Regions from separate parts of the Homo sapiens genome. Here regions 1 and 2 are each linked to region 3. Evidence: fine-mapped QTL for protein levels in blood plasma. A gene starts in region 3. Each other region holds a variant in brackets. All regions are shown on one strand. Distances are between the middles of the regions.

Region 1 (6,793 bases), 21 kb after region 3:
TACCTGACATTTCTAACCAGTACTTACTCTAAAACAAGGTCTATAAAAGCAACAGTCCACAAATTTACTTATTTAGGAAGTTTAGATTTTTAAAAATATGGTGATTTAGGAAGCTAAATGCCATTATAGGATGTTTTTATTGCCCATGTTCTGTAATTATTAGGACATGCTTTCCAGCACTACGTGTGCTTGAAATAATATAAAACCTGGAAGCAATGATGAATAATGTCTAACTTTTCATTAGCACAATTACTCAGTTCATTTTGCCCTAGAATAAGCAGTATTTGGAAGGAGGCTCCTACATTCAGGACATGTCTTCAGCATTCTTCTGGTGAACATTTATGCTGTTATTTGAGTAGTTTAATAATTTTTGAATAGTGACTATAAATGATGCACACAAATATTCCTCTTCTAGATTGTCTTCTGTGGATTAATTAACAGTTCATTAGATAATTATCTGTACTTTTAAGACCATAATGTTAGTCCCTGAACTGAAACCAGTAAGAAGATTGCTGGAAGTCCTGGCCTCTTTTCCCATTTACGGAGTAGGAAAGGTTACTTTGGTGCTTGAGGTAAATTCCAGTTTTCAGGCTACACATCGTGTTCATTTCTTTATTCTGCTAGGGCCACAGCTCATGACCTAGGTAGGCCCTTGCTGTGAATTCCTCACTGTATCATTTGTTCCCTAATTCTGACCTCTGTTTATCAGACCATAATCATGTCTTTCAGAAGAAAACAAGGAAGGAAGGGAGAGAGGAAAGGAGGGAAGGAGGGAGGAAAAAAAGGAAAGAAGGAAGGGAGGGAGGGAAAATGCTCACTAAGACCTAATCACCTTCCCTCCCAATTCATTCTTTCCATGGCTATGACTGAGCACTAAGTCCTCAGCAGAAATTTTGACCAGGAGGTTATCAGGTAGCACATTACCACCTGTTGACAGTGATCTCTAATTGTAACATCATCCCCAGCGCATTTCTGCACTGTACACATAAGGATGTCTTGGGAGAGCCTGCCAGCCCATAATTCTTACAGCATTCTGTTGATCTAACAACATGGGAACAACAGCCATCTAAAAAGTATGTGAAGTCCCCTTTTGTTACTAAGATATATTACATGTTATCATTATGGAAAATTTGGAAAATATAGAAAAGTAGAAAGAAAAACAATTGAGTTCTGCTGGCCTGCCCTGCTTTTTTTAAGACCGCACTTATAAATTGGTCACTAATGTCTTTGTGAAGTGCTCATGAATTATCTGTTCAATAACTCACTCTAGAATGTTGCTGGAGTTTGGCACCTAGGTCTTAACTTGCCATTTCTGTAAATAACCTTATTACCTTCCTGCAAATTGGAACTTTTGTTCCAGAAGCCGCCTAGCTTCTGGAAATTCTCTTTTTCATCATTATTCTGCACAGTTTACCAAAACTAATTGCACAATAAAACCTCAAAATTCCTTGGGTATCTTGGGACAATTTATGTGGCCCTTCCACTGGAATGGAAACTCCCAAAGGGAACCTTTTTATTCACTGCTATATCCTCACAAACTAGAATAGTGCCCTGCAAACATAGGTGTTCAATACATTTTCTTTTTAAAATGTTAGCTTCATTGAGATATATTTCCCATATCAGAACATTTACCCATGTAAAGTATAAAATTCAGTAGCTTTTAGTATATTCACAGTTATCCAACCATCAATTTCAAAACAGTTTCACCCCCTTTTTTTTTGAGAGCGAGTCTTGCTCTGTTGCCCAGGCTGGAGTGCAGTGGCACGATCTCTGCTCACTGCAACCTTCACCTGCCAGGTTCAAGCGATTCTCGTGCCTCAGCCTCCTGAGTAGCTGGGATTACAGGTGTGTGCCACCACACTCAGCTAATTTTTGTATTTTTAGTAGAGACGGGATTTTGCTATGTTGACCAGGCTGGTCTCAAAATCCTGCCCTCAAGTGATTCTCTCATCTCGACCTCCCAAAGTTGTGGGATGACAGGCACAAGCCACCAAGCCCGGCCCCATTTTCACCACTTCTAAAAAATCCTCAGATGCTTAAACAGTCTGTCACATGCCATTCCTTCCCACCACTGGCAGCCACTGATTTGCATTCTATCTCTATGGATTTGCGTATTCTGGACATTTCATGTAAATAGAATGGTACAAAATGTGGTCCTTGTGTCTGATTTCTTTCACTTAGCATAATGGTGTCAAGGTTTATCCATGATGTAGTAGATATGCCGTTCCTTTTTTATTGCCAAATAATATTCCACCGGATAGATATATAATACCATGATATGTTTATCCATTTTAAGCCTATGGGCATTTGAGTTATTTCCATTCATTTAGGTTGTCTTTACTTCTTTTGATGATGTTTTACAGTCTCCACTGTACAAGACTTATACTTCTTTTGTTAAATTTATTCCTAAGTACTTACTCTTTGTGATGCTGTTAGTATGTTAGTATACAGAATTCTTTTCTTAATTTTGTTTTCAGCTCATTCATTCCTAATGTGTAGAAATACAATTGACTTTAGTATGTTGTTTTCATATCATCCTTGCTGAACTCTAGTCATATTTTTGTGGACTCCTTAGGATTTTCTGTATATAAGATCATGTTATCTGTGAATAGACATAGTTTTACACATTCCTTTCCAATCTGGATGCTTTTATTTGCTTTCTCTCCTAATTGGCCTGGCTAGAACCTCCAGTACAATGTTGGATAGAAGTGGTGAGAGCAAAATCCTTGTCTTCTTCCTGATCTTAGGGGCAAAGCTTTTCAGGCTTTCACAATTATATATGATGTTAGCTATGGATTTCCATAGACTCTGTTTATCAAGTTGTATCAATAAATATTTGAGAATGAATACACATATATATATTTAAATATATTCTTTATAATGTTTGCTTTTTGGGTCTTGTTAATAAATCCATCCC[T/A]AATCAGTGGTTAGAAAGATATTTCTGCTACATTTACTTTTAATAGTTTTAAAGCTTTGCATTTCACATTTAGGCCTTTAATTCATGTAAATTTATACTGTATATGGTATGAAGTTGGGATTCTAATTTTGTCATTTATCTGAAAAGCAATTTTCCTAACACCAGTTTTATTCTTGTTCTATTTGGCAGACAATTTTATAGAAATAAAAAAAACAGAAGTTATGGGGTACTGTATTATACAATTCTTTTATTTATTGTTTCTGTTTTTTAGAGAGGGGAGCTCATTCTGTTGCCCATGCTGGCATGCAGTGGTGCAGCTATAGCTCACTGTAGCCTTGAACTCCTGGACTCAAGCCATCTTCCTCCCTCAGCCTCCTGAGTAGGTGGGATTACAGGCTGAAGAGCCTAACCATATTGTACAACTCTTAAGGCTGGGCAGAAATCTTGAATAGGACAGGATCATGTGGCACCGCACTCCAGGTTCCATTGTTCAGCCCACATTACATTGCATGTAGAAGGAAATATGGGAGTCAGGGCTTCACGTCCGACTTCCAAATCTCACTTGAATGCATTTCATTGGCAGAACCTGAATAACATTCAGATCCTTAGGTACAGGGATGTTGAGAAATGTAATTTTCACCTTTCCATCCCCTTCCCTAGAGGAGATGAGGGTAGGGGCTATATGAAGCTGTGCAGATGAATTCTGAGTGTCAAGGTCCCAGCACAAGGTTCTTCCAATTATCTTCTAATAGATCATTTTCTATTTTTTCCTCAATGTTTTCCTTCTTCTGCATTACACTTAGCTGCTATTGTTTCTTATATATCATGTATTTCATCATTCTTTCTTGGATTCATTTTTCATTTTGCTGGAATACCTCCTCCAAAAAAATTTTTATTTGTATGCAGGTGATAATATTCTGAGTTTTCAAATGTTCAAAAATATGTTGATTTTGTTTACATGTTTGATAGATAGTTTGTGCAATAAAGAAATTCAAGGCCTGGCATGGCGGCTCACAACTGTAATCCCAAACTTTGGGAGGCCGAGGTAGATGGTCATTTGGGCCCAGAAGTTCTAGACCAGCCTGGGCAATATGATGAAACCCTGTCTCTACAAAAAAAAAAAAAAAAAAACAACCCCAAAAATTAGCTAGGTGTGGTGGTGTACACCTGTTGTCCCAGTTACTCAGGAGGCTGAGGTGGAAGGATTGCTTGAACCCAGGAGGCAGAGGCTGCAGTGAGCCAAGATTGCACCACTGCACTCCAGCCTGCGTGATAGAGTGAGACCTTGTCTAAAAAAAAAAAAAAAAAAAAAAAAAAGAAAACAAAGAAATTCAAAATTATTTTTCTTTAGAATTTAAAGATGTATTATATTGTATATATTAAAGTTTTTAACTTTTATGGATTTTTGTGGATACATAATCATTGTGCACATTTATGGGGTACATGTGATGTTTTGACACAAGCATACAATGTATAATGATCAATTTGGATAACTGGGATATCATCACCTCTCACCTCAAATATTTATCATTTCTTTATGTTGGGAACATTCCAGATCTTCTCTTTTAGCTATTTTGAAATGCACAATAAATTATTGTTAACTATAGTCACCCTACTTTGCTATCAAACGCTGGAACTTATTCCTTCTAACTGTATTTTGTACCCATTCACCAATCCTCTTCATCCCCCTTAGAATTTTGAATTCCTCCATTGCCCTCGTTGTTCCACTAATGCCTATGAGAAATATGATGCTGCTCTGTGATTCTGGTTCTTTTGAAGGTAACCTATTTTTTTTCTCTTTGGAAGATTTTAGGGTATGTCCTTAAGAACTTTTGGAGTTCTTAACTTTTATCAAGATGTCTAGGCCATATATCCTGCTTGCCTGCTTGTACTATGTAGGCCCTTTTAATTTGAAGACTGGTTTTCTTCATTTAAAGGAAATTTTGTTCTATTATTTCTTCACTTCTTCCCCTCTATTGTCTCTGTTCTTTCTTCCTATAATGCCTCTTAGCTAGATGATGAAAATTCTGGACTCTCCCCTATGCCTTCTAACATTGCCCCATATTTTCTTTTCCTTTGTCTTTGTGTGTGTGCGTGTATGTGTGTGTTTGTGTTCATGTGCACACTAGGGGAATGTCCTCACATCTACCTTTCAAATCTGTAACTTGCCTTCAGCCACGTAGAACAGGTGTTCTGGAGCCAGATAGCTTGACTTTGAATTCTGACTTAGCTAATTTTTAGCTGTCTGAGCAAGTGACTTAATCTCTCTCTCTCTCTCTTTTTTTTTTCTTTTAATGAGATGGAGCCTCACTCTGTTGCCCAGGCTAGAGTGCAGTGGCACAATCTCTGTTCACTGCAACCTCCATCTCCTGGGTTCAAGTAATTTTTCTGCCTCAGCCTCCCGAGTAGCTGGGATTACAGGCACCTGCCACCATGTCCGACTAATTTTTGTATTTTTAGTAGAGACAGGGTTTCGTTGGCCAGGCTGGTCTCGAACTCCTGATCTCAAGTGATCCTCTCGCCTCGGCCTCCCAGAGTGCTAAAATTACAGGTGTGAACCACCGTGCCCAGCCATTAATCTCTTTAACTCTGTTTCCTCACCTGTGAGATGGGGAGAATAATAGTACCTGCCTCACTGGGTTAGTTTGATTATTAGGTATGTTAGGATGTTTAAAATGCGAAGAACAGATCCTGGGCCTAACACATAGGAGGTACTTAATATATATTAGCTGCTAGCATTATCAACAGTTATTCCACTTGTTCACTGAGGTTTTAATTTTAACAATCCTATTTTGAATTTCCAATAATTTTTCTTGTTCTCTGATTTTTGCCCCTCATTTGTAGCAGCCTATTTTTGTTTTATGGAGGCAATATCCTTTCAAATTTTTCCAAAGATACTAATTACTATTTTAATTATTGATATTAATTGTGGTTTAAAGTTTTTCTTTGTTCCTTTAATCTTCTATTTGTTTATCATAGCCTTTCTTTTTCATGTTCTTTTTTTTTTTTTTTTTTAATTTCTCAAATGTCTAGCAGTCCTTGGTTGCCTGTTCCTTTTGATCTGTGAGGGGCTCCACTGATCAGGATACTTGGCTGCTTTCTGACGTAGCTGTCCACTCATTGATTCATGTGAGGCTTGCTGTGGCATCTGAGTGCATGAGTGGGAGGTGTCTGGTCAGGTTTCCCTCTGGGGTGTACGGGTGAGCACTCCCCAGGCAGCCACTGGAAGGAGAGCTCTGCCTAGAGGTGTGGTGCTTCAGAATAAAGTAGATTTCATTCCAGGGCAGAGCTGTGCATTCGCAGACTCTGTTGACTCTCCTTTTCTCCCAGGCCCAGTGCTGCCACCAGGGCCCCATGGAGGTAGATCTCCGTCTCTTGAGAGAGCAGTTCTCTGGCTTTAGCTTGAGATCTGTTTTTCGTTTGGTGATCACCCCAACGATTGTGCCTTGGCCGGTTCTGTCTCTTTGCATCCATTGGCTCAGGGCTTGGAGCTTCTCCAGTGCTGTCACCAAAAGTGCTGTTCTTCCTTTTTCTAGGAAATGAGTTTCCTCTCTTCCTTTCCAGTCAGAGCCATGCCATCTGCTTTCTATCTTCCAGGAATTCTTTGAAATGATTGGTCTATTAATGATGTCCATTCTTATTTTCCTGTGTTGTTATGGTTTATTTTCTTTTGTCTGTTCTTATGTCCTGTTTGCCTCCCCTCACAGTTTTTCCCCCCAGTAAGACCATGCACAGGAAAGAGGAGAGCTGGATATACATCTATCTGCCATATTGAACTAGAAAGTTTTCTTTTTTATTTTGAGCTTTCCAAGATTTTCTTAATGATGCCAATTTCCTCCCAGATAGATTAATATGAATATATTTTTTGTGTGGGCT
Region 2 (6,793 bases), 80 kb after region 3:
GACTAAGGTTGCCCAGATAGTAAGAGAAAGAGCTTGGACCCAAACTGAGGTATTTTTGACAAGCCCCGATCTTAGTGACTATACTGTGATCTCTCTCCTAGGAGAGGGCTTATCTGGCTTATTCCCTCCTCTTCCATGCTCTCCCTAAAGATAGATGAGGATTTCACCTAATTTTATTCAAAGAAGAAATGGGAGTCGTTTCTAAGGCTCATTTTCCAAGGATAGATCATTTCACTGGCAGCTTGACTTAAAAAAATCGAGAACAAATATTCTCTTCCCAGTAATCCAGCAGACTCTGCCTGAGATAGGTTTTAGCTTGTGACTCTTACACTGAACTAGAGAGTACAGATGAATGGAGTTTTCTTAGAATTCTCTAAATGGTATATATTATAGCTGGAACAAAACATTTATAAGAGCACAAATCGCATGCCTGTCATATTCAAAACCCCATGCCCCCTCCCTTATGTTAACCACTTCTATGTTTTATAGAGGCCCCAGTGCAGTGGAGATGGAAAATATTGACAAAGCAATAGCCACTGTGACTGGTCTCCAGGTGGGGACCTACCACTTCCGTTTGACAGTGAAAGACCAGCAGGGACTGAGCAGCACGTCCACCCTCACTGTGGCTGTGAAGAAGGGTGAGTGGGTCTGAGGTGGACAGGGCTGGGCCTGCTCTGCTTTCGAGTCTGCAGGACCCTCAGCCAGGCCATGACTATTCAGAGATGTTGGTGTTTGCTTATTTGTTCGCAGCAGATGCCGAACCCTGCCTGGCTGAAAAAAAGCCAACTTTCTTCTATTCATGTTAGCTGTTTCTCAGTCGCCCTCTGCAAGCAGACATTTCCTTTTGTTTGTGGAGCATATCTTCTAATGACTTCACTCTTCTGTGACTACTAGTAATGAAAGACCCACGTCCAAATGACACCATTATGCTTTTTTTCCTTTATTCCTTGGAAATTCAAGAAAAGAGATGTTTTCAAATTCCATATCGTTTCTTAGTGTGAAATCTGTGGTCTAGACTAGTGAATACTGCTTTAGGTACTTGTCTCCTTGTCTGTCTTCCCATTTGACTGTGAACTGCCTGAGTGTCTTTGCTTCAGACATCTCTGTATCCTCAGTATAGCCTCAGTATAGCAGAGTGCTAGACTCATGGCAAATCAGAGGTGTTGAATGAATTAGTGAATGGATGATTACAACGTGTTGAAGTGCAGAGGAGTATAAGAGCCTGGCTGGATGGAAAGGTTCAAGCATTGTAGAATGGCAAGAGTGTGGGACGCTGGGAGAGTGGCTGCAGCCTGAGGCACAGGCTCTGCCATGGAGGGTTGTATGTGCCACGGGCCATGCTTAGGGGTTTGGACTTTATCCTCTGGGCAGCTGGGAGAGGCTGAAGCAACTTTAACAGCAAAGTGATATAGATTTGGATTTTTCAAAAGATTTTATTGTAGAGATTTTCAACCATGCATAAAAGTAGAGAGAATAGTCTGAACAGGCATCTTGACTTGTTTCTAAGGGGAAATTGGGAGGGATCAGGCTGGGTCCCAGAGCCCCTTCTGGACAAGCAGGATTTGCCTCACAGCAGCCTCATCTCCAAATTGAGGCTGTGTCTTATTATGATCTCCCCACTGTACCCCAGTGTTGTTAGTGCTCCCTGGCCCCTCTTTTCTGAAGTTATTACATCAGAAATGGCTTTTACATTGCCTCATTTTTTTATTTTTAAAATAGACCCAGGGTCTCACTCTGTTGCTCGGACTGGAGTACTGTGCTGTGATCATAGCTCATTGCAGCCTCAAACTCCTGATCTCAAGTGATTCTCTCACCTCAGCTTCCTGAGTAGCTGGGTCTACAGGTGTGTGTTACCATGCCCAGCTGATTTTTAATTTTGTGTGTGTGTGGAGACGGGTCTTGCTACCCAGGCTGGTCTTGAACTTCTGGCTTCAAGCACTCATCCTGCCTTAGCCTCCCCAAGTGTTAGGATTACAGTTATGAGCCACCATGCCTGGCCATTGCCTCATTTATATTTAACACCTAGTCAGAGAAGTGAGGGCCTAATTATCATTGTTATTATTTCAATTTTTAATTTTTCATAGAGATGGAGACTTGTTGTGTTGCCCCGGCTGGTCTCAAACTCCTGGTCTCAAGTGATTCTCCTGCTTTGGCCTCCTAAAGTGCTGGGATTACAGGTGTGAGCCACTGCACCCAGCCTACTTTTTACTCAAATTTTTTTTTTCTTTTTTTTTGTCTTAGAGAGTCAAGATTTGGCAGTACTTGAAGTGGAAATATTTCTGGCCAGATAGTGTGGACCAGTACAAAATGACCCAAAGTATATTGTAAACCAAAATATTGCCACTTTCAATACCCTAAATGTTGGTAAAATCATTGTTTCTATTTTTCAAGGACAGAAAAGGTATAACAATATTAGAAAAATTCCCAAGGTACAGCTTGCCACCTGCTTTACCGTTTTCATCCCAAATTATAGCTAACTAAGTACAAATGGAGCTTTAAGGAAGTCTGTATCTTATATGCATCTGGGGAAAAAAATGCCTTTTTGGATATTTTAATTCTACATACTGTATCTGCAAGGTGGAAGAGTTGTGGATGTTTTATGACACACTTATTCTATCACTGGTGTTTTAAATCAATCTCTTTGCTTTCATTTTGCTATATTTGACTTAGAAAATAATAGTCCTCCCAGAGCC[C/T]GGGCTGGTGGCAGACATGTTCTTGTGCTTCCCAATAATTCCATTACTTTGGATGGTTCAAGGTCTACTGATGACCAAAGAATTGTGTCCTATCTGTGGATCCGGGATGGCCAGAGTCCAGCAGCTGGAGTGAGTACTGAGAGAGAATTGCTCCTAGACCACTTATCATTACATCTGCATTAGTCAGCTTGGGCTGCAAACAATATATCACGGTATATTCTAAGGAAAGGATATAAGTATAAGGAGGCTTAAACAACAGAACTTAATTTTGTCTCCATTATGGAGGCTGGGAAGACAGGCTCAAGTTGCTGGCTAATTCAGTTTCCAGTGAGGTCTTTCTTCCTGGCTTGCAGACAGCTGCCTTCTTACCATGTCCTCCCATAGCAGGGGAAGAGAGAGCACTCTGGTGTCTCTTCTTATAAGGACAGTAAATCCTATTGGATCAGGGGCCTACCCTTATGACCTCAATTAACCTTAACTACTTCCTTATAGGTCCTATTTCTAGATACAGTCATATGGGGTTAGGGCTTCAACACAGGAGTCTGGGAAAGACACAGTTCGGTCCACGGCAGTGTCTCTATAATGACCTCATCTCTCTTTCCCTGTTCCCTGTAAGGTGCTTATGCTTCTACATTAGAATGTTCTGAAGGCTGGAGGCAGTAGGCTGCTTTGAGATTTAGCCAAAAGCTGAAATCCTTTCTGACTTTTTCCTGAACAGACTTTGGATGGGGCAGGAAACCATAGCTTGGAAGCACTTTGAGGTCAAGTCTTCCAGCAGGATGCTTTTCCATCCTTCGTATTTTGGTCCAAGTGGATTCTTTTCTGTTCCTCATATTGTACCAGATGAGTCAATAGATCACGGATTGCTATTTACGTTTTATAGATGCAGAAGGCGAAATGCAGAGATGAGAAGTGACTTGGCCGAGGTTAACTAATCCATTTCTTTTGTTCTTTTTTTTTTTTTTTTTTTTTTGAGATGGAGTCTCACTCTATCGCCCAGGCTGTAGTGCAGTGGCGCAATCTCGGCTCACTGCAACCTCCGCTGCCCGAGTTCGAGCTATTCTCCTGCCTCAGCCTCCCGCGTAGCTGGGACTACAGGCACGTGCCACCACGTCCAGCTAATTTTTGTAGTTTTAGTAGAGATGGGGTTTCACCATGTTGGCCAGGATGGTCTTGATCTCTTGACCTTGTGATCCACCCGCTTCGGCCTCCCAAAGTACTGGGATTACAGGCGTGAGCCACCGCGCCCAGCCTTAACTAATCCATTTTTAATCAAACTAGACACACCTAGGTTTTTAGCTCCTGGCAGGCATTTTACCCCCATTAGATCACTCTGCCTCTTAGGACATAAATGTATGTACGTCTTCATTCCTGCCATTTCTAAGGACTGGAGAGATACAGATTTAGTCTTGGAGATGTACTAAGGAGTGGTCACAGGGAAGGAACTGAAAATGCTTTATACTTTTTTTTTTTGAGTCCGAGTCTCGCTCTGTCACCTAGACTGGAGTTTAGTGGTGCGATCTAGGCTCACTGCAAGCTCCACTTCCCAGGTTCAAGCCATTCTCCTGCCTCAGCCTCCCGAGTAGCTGGGACTGCAGGTGCCCACCACCACGCCTGTCTAATTTTTTTGTATTGTATTTTTAGTAGAGACGGGGTTTCACCTTGTTAGCCAGGATGTTCTCGATCTCCTGACCTCGTGATCCGCCTGCCTTTGCCTCCCAAAGTGGTGGGATTACAGGCGTGAGCCACCATGCCCTGCCAAATGCTTTATACTTTCTAAGCACTTCTAGAATTAACACTATTCAACTAGATGGGGGATTAGCCTCTAAATGTAATAACAATGAGTCTCTGTTCACAGCACATATTCGTTATCACCCCTTCTATTAGCAGGAGTCTGGGAGGTTCTTCTCTCATTCTTTGGAGCTTAGAAGCCCACAGAACAGAGGACGCTACACAGGGTCTTGGGTTATTTCAGGTGAACATGATACATTATGAGGGAATTCAAGATGAGAGTTTTGTAAAGCTATGTTTGAAAATAAGACCCAGAAAACCTGTGCTTTGTTCTCAGCGTCCTTGCCCTAATTCAAATGGTCTTTCCCTTTGTTGGATACAATTAATTATTTGGTAATTCCTGGAAAGTGCTTGGTAAACTTAGTTCAGTTCAGGAAATACTGTCTGAGGATGTGCCCCCTGGTGCTTTTTGGGGAAGAGATGCTGAGGATTTCTCCAGTCTTTAGCTATCCCGCCAGCCTCATTCCCTGCAGCCTCCCTCTTAAAGTCACGCCTGTGTTAAAAAGATGGGACACTGAGGTTTAGGATCAACAGAAGCCCAGAAATTGGGACCCGAGGATTGACAGCTGCCCTGTGATCCGTGTTCTTTCGCAGGATGTCATCGATGGCTCTGACCACAGTGTGGCTCTGCAGCTTACGAATCTGGTGGAGGGGGTGTACACTTTCCACTTGCGAGTCACCGACAGTCAGGGGGCCTCGGACACAGACACTGCCACTGTGGAAGTGCAGCCAGGTGAGTTCCTGGGCTCTGGAGCTGGCCATGCAGGCTCTGGCTGGTCAGCCTTTGGGGTCTTTACGCTGACAGATGTGACCAGTGTGGGAGGCCTCCTGTGGCTGGCTCCAGCTCTTGGCTGGACCCACTTTGAGGATGTCTCTTACACCTTGTTGTGTATCCCCAGATAGATCCAGCCTCATCACTCTTTAAAAGAGAATGTTATCTGGCAACTAGATTTTCTTTTCATGTTTGTTTTCCTGCCAGAAGACAAAGACTTAATGTGAAGTGGACACAAGGGCCTCATACCAGGGCACAGAGGGAGGCAGCTCCAGTGAAGTGGCTGTAACGACCTCAGCATAAACTGGACTGGGAAGTGCCCATTGGCACTTGGAAGCAAAATTCTCTTTCTGGTCCTGGGAAAATGTGGAAGAGGCTGAAATTTTCAGCTAGCCCAGAGGCTAATTAGGTACACCCGATTATCTTCTGGAAAAAAAATTATAAACAACAAACTGTGATAAAACAAGGGAAAGTACTCCCAGATAGTGGCCTTTGCGGTGTTTAGAAGAATTTACCTGAGTGCTACAACTCAAATGTAGAAATGGCATAGGAGTAACTTTGAGCTCCTATAGAAACCTCGCTCCTTATGCTCTAAAGCCTGTGCAAATGTCCAAGTGCAAATCCTGTATCTTCTCTTTCCCCAGACCCTAGGAAGAGTGGCCTGGTGGAGCTGACCCTGCAGGTTGGTGTTGGGCAGCTGACAGAGCAGCGGAAGGACACCCTTGTGAGGCAGCTGGCTGTGCTGCTGAACGTGCTGGACTCGGACATTAAGGTCCAGAAGATTCGGGCCCACTCGGATCTCAGGTAGGAGCTGCACACTCAAGGCGGGGCCTTGGCCGTACAAAATTCCAGCTCTTACCTCATCCCAGTCCAGTAGAAAACTGTTCATTCCTCTGCTACTTTTGTATTTTTGACACACTTTTATCCCATTCATATACTTTTTTTCTCAAAGGGCAGTAGTATGGCCAACATCATGCTAGGTCCTTCCTAAAATTCTCAGTAAATGTTTGCTGATTGGGAATGTTCTGAGTGAAGGAGGTGCTGGGGAACAGCAGGGGAGACGGTTGTTAGCTCTGGTGTCTTCAGAGCTGGGCAAGGGGTCTGGAGCATGTGAAGAGGATGTCTCACAGCTGGGCTGCATCCCTGCCCCACGTTCATGGGGACTGAGGCTTCTCTCAATGTGAAAGGATCACTGATTACCATTTGCCATCTCCTGGGAGTATATGAGGCTGAAACTCTGGCCTTTATTTTTCATGACATCTTTGTATTTAATTGAGTTTTATTTATTTAATCTATTTATTATTTTATTTTATTTTTATTTTTTGAGACAGGGTCTCGCTCTGTTGCCTAGGCTAAAGTGCAGTGGCATGGTCTCAGCTTACTGTAACCTCCGCCTTTCAGATTCAAGTGATTCTCCTGCCTCAGCCACCTGAGTAGCTGGGACTACTGGTGCCCCCACTATACCCGGCTAATTTCTGTATTTTTAGTAGAGGCAGGGTTTCATCTTGTTGACCAGGCTGGTCTCAAACTCCTGACC
Region 3 (6,793 bases):
GTGCAGTGGCTCATGCCTGTAATCCCAGCACTTTGGGAGGCCGAGGCAGGTGGATCACCTGAGGTCAGAAGTTCAAGACTCGTCTAGCCAACATGGTGAAACCCCATCTCTACTAAAAATACAAAAATTAGCCAGGCGTGGTGACACGTGCCTGTAATCCAAGCTACTCAGGAGGCTGAGGCAGGAGAATCACTTGACCCTGGGAGGCGGAGGTTGCAGTAAGCCGAGATCGTGCCACTGCACTCCAGCCTGGGCGACAGAGCAAGACTGTCTCAAAAAAAACCACTTTTAGTCTGCTTTCATGAGCAATAGTTATCAATGAATTAACCTACTAATTTGCTATATCTTGAGTTTTTTACTTGGAATTTTTCAAAGTTTTTCCAGTGTAGTAGCTTTGCTTGCCTTACCTTCCTGCTTAGTGAAATTCCAACATAGAATCTTCTGGGTTTTTTTTTTTTTTTTTTTCAGTCTCAACCTCCTGGGCACAAGTGATCCTCTAGCCTCAGACTCTTGGGTAGCTGGGATTACAGGTGTGCACCACACACCCAGCTACTTTTTATTTGTTTTTGTTTTTTGTACAGAGAGGATCTTGCTATGTTGCCCAGGCTGGCCTCGAACTCCGGGGCTCACTCAATCCTCCTGCCTCGCCCACAAAGTGCTGGGATTATAGGCATGAGCCACTGTACGTGGCCTAAAGTCTTGTATTTCAATGAGGCAGCACTGTCATTACGCTAAGCACCATTTTTACCACTGATGTGGAATGTACTTTAACCTTCCTAAACCTCAGTTTTACCCACCCTCAAAATAAGTTATCTTTTATTGTACAAATGTCCCAACCAAAAGCATAAGCAAGAGCAGACAAAGTTAATTATACTAAGGATACATCATTTTATCCTTACTACCTCTTGCAGTGTCTGGCATATAGTAGGAGCTCAATGGATGTCCACTGAATGCTGAAAAGAAGTGAAAGGTAGTAGCCTCACATCTGTGTCCTAAAGAAGGAGACTAACATTTTCATACAATACCAAAATAGATATATTCATTAAAAATGAAAATAGATATTCATTACAGTGTCTCTGAGTTAAAAAGATGGTATAGTTAAACATTCTGGGCTAAGCCTGTGTGTGTGTGTATGTGCTAAAAATATGTTTCTTTAAAGGCTAATCAGCCAAGGATCGTTGGGGACAAAATCAGATTCATTGGCTTGATGCATTGAAAGAGTACCTGTGGAATGCCATGTGAGCACAGAAAGGAGGAAGTGTCTTTTGTAAAGATTTGGCTTCCTATTAAAGGATTCCAGGGAGAGTCTTGGAATCAGAGCTGGGATCCAGTTGGTTGCTGTTTCTGAGGCAGATTGAGAGAAAGGGGGATTAATGAGGGATTGGGTGCTGTCAGGAGGTGAAGGGAGTTTAGCAATTGGGTATCCCCAGTTATGGATGGGAATAGTAAAGCAAAGGTAGAAAGTAGTAGTCATTCAAAAATGGAACACAAGGAGTTGTGTTGTTTTGTACCTGCTGCGTGACTTCAGAGGAAACAACATTGCCTGTTAATTTTGCTTCTGACTTTGTCCTCTCAGCCTGATCATTGATCATTGGCAGTACTAACTTTTCCAAGTCCAAGCTGATTTTCACTCTTTGAGTCCTGGACAGGTTTTTACTCTTTAGTTTTTATTTATTTATTTATTTATTTATTTATTTATTTATTTATTTATTTATTTATTTTGAGACGGAGTCTTGCTCTGTCGCCCAGGCTGGAGTGCAGTGGCACGATCTCGGCTCACTGCAACCTCCGCCTCCTGGATTCAAGCGATTCTCCTGCCTCAGCCTCTCAAGTAGCTGGAACTACAGGCGCGGGCCACCACTCCCGGTTAATTTTTTGTATTTTTAGTAGAGACGGGGGTTTCACCGTGTTAGCCAGAATGGTCTCGATCTCCTGACCTCGTGATCCGCCCGCCTCGGCCTGCCAAAGTGCTAGGATTACAGGCGTGAGCCACCGCACCCAGCTGGTTTTTACTCTTTAAATGTGCATTATCTTATTTGATTCCCAGAATCATCCTATATGAATGCTATTATCTTCATTTTATAATTGAGGAAACAGGTTTATCTAGATTAGGTAACTTGTCTGAGGCTCTTCGGTAAATACGAGTAGCCAAGAAGCTTATTCATCAACAGTGTGTGACTCAGCCCTAAGCACTGCACTTATACCTCCTAGTAATGAGATGTGCGAGGAATGCCCTGGCTACCTTTTCTGCTCATGATATTATCCCTAGATGCTTTCGCATCTTTATTAAAACAGTAAAAATGCAAGAGTCTTCCACCCAAGTTTTCTGTGGTTTAGATTATCACGTTCCTCAAGATGCAAATGTCAAACTATACTGGGCATCCAGTTAACCTGCAAGGCCTGGAGGTGATGGGAGCCCCTCCTAGCACAGGTTCCCAGTCTCAGTCAGAAAGCACCTGCTCAAAATAGAAAGATAATTACAGAGTAGGGGCCAAAGAGACTCCCACTGGAAGAATGGAACTTGTGTAGCTGGGGTGACACAAGCTGGGGACAAGCTGGGGGACACATTCGCGAAGGGTGTTTGACCCAGGCAGTGCACCCACGGCTCCCTTGAGCCACCCTGGCCCGGGTGTTTATTTGGAAGGAGTGTTCATCCCCCAGACTGTTTAGGGCCACGGTGACAGGGAAGGGCTTGGTGAAGGAAAGCAGGTAGGGTATGAAGGCCGCTCAGGTTCACGAAAGACTTTTGCTTGGTCCCCTGCGGGGTGGGAGTGTGTCGCCCCGGTGCGGGTACTTAGAGCGCAACCGGGGAGCTGAGCAGGGGAGCTGAGCAGGGGAGCTGGGCAGGGGCGGCTGCCGCGCCCCACATCCCTGAGGGCGTGTGTGCGCGTGCGCGCGCGTCGCCGTGGTAACCGCGGCGGCGGAAAGGCGCTGAATCACTGGCGCGCGCTTTCCCCGAGCCTGCAGAAGCTGCCGCGGGCGGTGGGCGGGGATCCCCCGGGGGTGCAACCTTGCTCCACCTGTGCTGCCCTCGGCGGGCCTGGCTGGCCCCGCGCAGAGCGGCGGCGGCGCTCGCTGTCACTGCCGGAGGTGAGAGCGCAGCAGTAGCTTCAGCCTGTCTTGGGCTTGGTCCAGATTCGCTCCTCTGGGGCTACGTCCCGGGGAAGAGGAAGCGAGGATTTTGCTGGGGTGGGGCTGTACCTCTTAACAGCAGGTGCGCGCGCGAGGGTGTGAACGTGTGTGTGTGTGTGTGTGTGTGTGTGTGTGTGTGTGTGTGTGTGTGTAAGACCTGCGATGACGACGAGGAGGAACAAGTGGGACGGCGAGTGATGCTCAGGGCCAGCAGCAACGCATGGGGCGAGCTTCAGTGTCGCCAGCAGTGACCACAGGTACGGTATCTACTTCCCAGAGCGCCTGGCCGAGAAATAGGAAAGAGGGCAGCCAGTAGGCAGGCCAATACCCAACAAAAGTAGAATCGAGACGCCCTGAGTTCAGAAGGTGAGTTTCTTAAGATTCTTCTGGGCATTCAGGAAAGGGCATTTTTTGATTGCTGCACTGATTGTTGACTAGTAGGGTGGAGTCGGGGAAATTTGAGTGTCTTTTCCCAACCTCACGAATTGCATTTTTTTAGAAGTAAGGAATCGTTTTCTTTAAACTTCATTCAGAACTATTTATGTGATCTTTCCTATTATTTGCTAAATGCATTTTGTCTCTGTTCCTTACCATAACCTGAAGCTTAAAATCTTTCTCTTCTTCCCTTTGAATTCCCTCCAAGGAATGTCACAAATTAATCGGGAGGATAAACCTGAAATTTTGAGAGTTATCATCTTAAGGTCATTTGTTAATTAAATACAAGGAGGAAAAATATGATATACATACTCATGTGCACTTTTATTGCTGGTTTGTTCATCAAAACATTTTTGTTTGTCGGTGAAATGTTAGTATTTTTTCCACTGCTTGAATTGAAAAGTTGAATGATGTTTTTGATAGTAACAGAAAAAATAAATTGTAGACAATGTTCCCCCCCACACACAAGAATTTTGGAAGTAAATGTTGGTATTTATTTCTTTATTCCTGAAATACATGCTCACTTTCCAAATGCTTCAATTTATTATAAGAAGACCACAATTGTAGAGACTACTAAAGTTATGCCAAATCTAAACTTTTATTTTGTGCTTTTTTTAGTATTATTTTTAATTCAGATGAGGAAAACTGGAGGTGTCAGTTCAGTTATAGACGTAGGAGTCACAGAGAAAGGTGAATTCCTCTGTAATTTGAAAAAGGGAAATGTAAACATATTACCTAAGTACTCTGATTTATTTGTATTAACCATTTGTAATGCATTTGCATTTGTAATGCAAAATGCCGAGGCAAGAACTTAATTTTTGTTTCGAAATAATGAAAATAATTCAGCCAAAATCTTTATGAATTAAAAATAGCCAAAAGAGAGCTTTGGTAATGTATGAATGTAAAAGAATAGAGTTGCTGTTAAATTTTCTTGACTTTTTTTTTTTCCCTAGCCAATAGATAGGAAGCATTCTCTTTAAATAAATACAGTAAGTCCTCACTTAACATTCTTGATACGTTCTTGGAAACTGTGAACCTTTAAGCACAACGAGGTATAAGGAAACCAATTTTACCACAGGCTAATTGATATAAACAAGAGTTAAGTTCCTACAGCATATTTCTGGTCATAAAAAAATCACCAAACTTCTAAATAAAGACCACAACACTTCTAATATTAAACATAGAAATAAATGGGATCTATACATACAGTTAAGAAGGATTAGTAAAAACAAGATCATTATTTACCCAATTATTACAGTTCAAGGTCATGGGTAGCCAGAGTCTCCCTGGTTCAGAGTGGGAACCCCCCCCTCTCCCCTGTCCAGGAAGCTATCCCATCACAGGGTGCACTTTCACAGACACACCCACTCACTCAGACGGGGACCATGTAGACATATGCACAGCTTTGGGATGTGAAGGAAACCGAAGCCCAGAGAAAACCCACGCAGACATGAGGAGAATGAGCAGACTCCACATAGACAGTGGCCCTGGCCAGGAATTTTTTTGTCACCAACGTTGAATGAAACTATGTTATTGAGGCACTGCTGTATGTAGAGCCAGGTATGCCCGTTTCTGGAACGGAGTGCTGCAGATTGCCAGGTCAGAGGGTGTGGGTTTGGGCGTGGCTCTGCCACTTAGTGGCTGTCTCACATTTGGCAAATTCTCTAAACCCTCTAAGGCTCAGTTTCCTCACCTGTAAAATAGAGATAACAATGGGACCTACTTAACGAAATTCCTGTAAGAATTAAATACAATAATATGTTTAAGAGATCTTTGCTCATTGCCTGGCATGTTTTAATAGTAACGCTTCAATAAGTGTTGTTATTTTTGAGATGTGTTCTTTTTCAGGAAATATTTTTCATACCTTAAAAATAATTTGGTACTAAAAAATAGATTTATTTTGACATGTCCAAAGCTTGTTCTGATTTATGATATCAAATCATCATAAAATGCATAAATTTTTCCTTGCAGCACCTTTATAACAGCAACAATAATAAATATAATAATCAAAATCATAAAATCATGTCAATTTAATATTCTGGTAGCTTAATACCCCCAAGGAAGGAGCTTTGCTTTAGTAGGCCTAGAATAATTGGTAGGTTATTTTTCTATTTGTTTTTAAAATTTTTTTTATAGATTTAGAGTGTACAAGTGCAGTTTTGTTATGTGGATATATTGTGTAGTGTCAAAGTCTGGGCTTTTAGTGTACCCATTACCCGAATAGTGTAGGTTATTTTTCTATTTGTCTTTAAAAATCTGTACCTTTAGACACTATTCATGTGAATTCAATAATAAGAAAATATTTTCTCATTTATTTGTATTAAACAATAAAAATGGTTGAGCCAGAGTAACATCTGGCATCATCATTTTGCAGGGTCTTTTAACAGTAGGTGTTTAAGTTTTAAAGTAGAGCTGCTTAAATGACACCAGTAGGTAAAGATAATAGTGTTCAAGTTTTAGTTATTTTTCCTTCTAAATAATATTGTAGAATTATCCTGCCTGCCAACTTGCTGGTCATTCTTTTCCTTAAGTTCAAAAAAGCAAAGGAGGCTGGGAACGCGGTGGCTCATGCCTATAATCCCAGCACTTTGGGAGTCCGAAATGGACGGATCACCTGAGGTCAGGAGTTCGAGACCAGCCTGGCCAACATGGTGAAACCCCATCTCTACTAAAAATACAAAAATTAGCCAGGCATAGTGGTGGGCGCCTGTAATCCCAGCTGAGGCAGGCGAATCACTTGAACTCCGGGAGGCGGAGGTTGCGGTGAGCCCAGATTGCCTCACTGCACTCCAGCCTGGGCCACAGAGCAAGACTCTAATTCAAAAAAAAAAAAAATGCAGCAAAGGATTATAGTAAGCATCTATTTAATTTAAGCAATGTAGCTTGAATAAGAGGATAATTCAGGCCTAAAAATGAATTTTCAAAGTTGGGGTCATTCCATGCTATTAAGCATCAGAATATAAGCATGGAGGGTAAATTAACTCCAGCGTTGCCACCCATAACACCCATACATTTTAAGCATTACAGTTGATAGGATGTTTATTCATGTGATGATGGGGAAGTATGGGCTGTCCCTTCCCAGGATCACAATCCTGTTCTGTTATTCTAAGATTGTGATTATGTCAGCATACCTTACCATCTTTTGTTTTCATCATTAAGATGAAGTACATGATGTGTAGCTGCACTGTCTTGTAATCATTGTAACAGAGTTACCTTCAAAATTTTT

Which allele goes with the higher level. Alleles are on the strand shown, and positions count from the first base shown. The strength of an association depends on the size of the effect and on how common the allele is.
For the plasma level of the protein whose gene starts at base 2,934 in region 3, allele A in region 1 goes with a higher level than allele T (moderate association).
For the plasma level of the protein whose gene starts at base 2,934 in region 3, allele T in region 2 goes with a lower level than allele C (moderate association).

What was found. A credible set is the group of variants that fine-mapping cannot tell apart. PIP is the chance, under the fine-mapping model, that this variant and not a neighbour inherited with it causes the effect. The UK Biobank Pharma Proteomics Project read protein levels with antibody pairs (Olink). The fine-mapping took linkage between variants from a reference panel, not from the people measured, so its PIPs are less certain.
Region 1: its variant is the best candidate, but not a certain one, in a credible set for the plasma level of the KIAA0319 protein (UK Biobank, PIP 0.71).
Region 2: its variant is the best candidate, but not a certain one, in a credible set for the plasma level of the KIAA0319 protein (UK Biobank, PIP 0.85). The variant lies in the coding sequence of KIAA0319. If it changes the protein, the assay may bind it differently, which can mimic a change of level.

Annotation. Positions count from the first base shown.
Region 1 is chr6:24,621,459-24,628,251 of GRCh38, reverse strand. All of the region lies in intron 1 of KIAA0319, which reads left to right. Among named protein-coding and RNA genes, the nearest start is that of KIAA0319, 21 kb to the left of the region's middle. The variant T/A (reference allele first, on the strand shown) is at 2,918.
Region 2 is chr6:24,562,626-24,569,418 of GRCh38, reverse strand. KIAA0319 reads left to right here. Exons shown (of 21, transcript NM_014809.4): 13 at 490-638; 14 at 2,671-2,822; 15 at 5,079-5,217; 16 at 5,901-6,060. Among named protein-coding and RNA genes, the nearest start is that of ALDH5A1, 71 kb to the right of the region's middle. The variant C/T (reference allele first, on the strand shown) is at 2,694.
Region 3 is chr6:24,642,332-24,649,124 of GRCh38, reverse strand. It overlaps KIAA0319, which reads left to right and starts at 2,934. Exons shown (of 21, transcript NM_014809.4): 1 at 2,934-3,389. RefSeq lists a silencer at 2,880-3,089.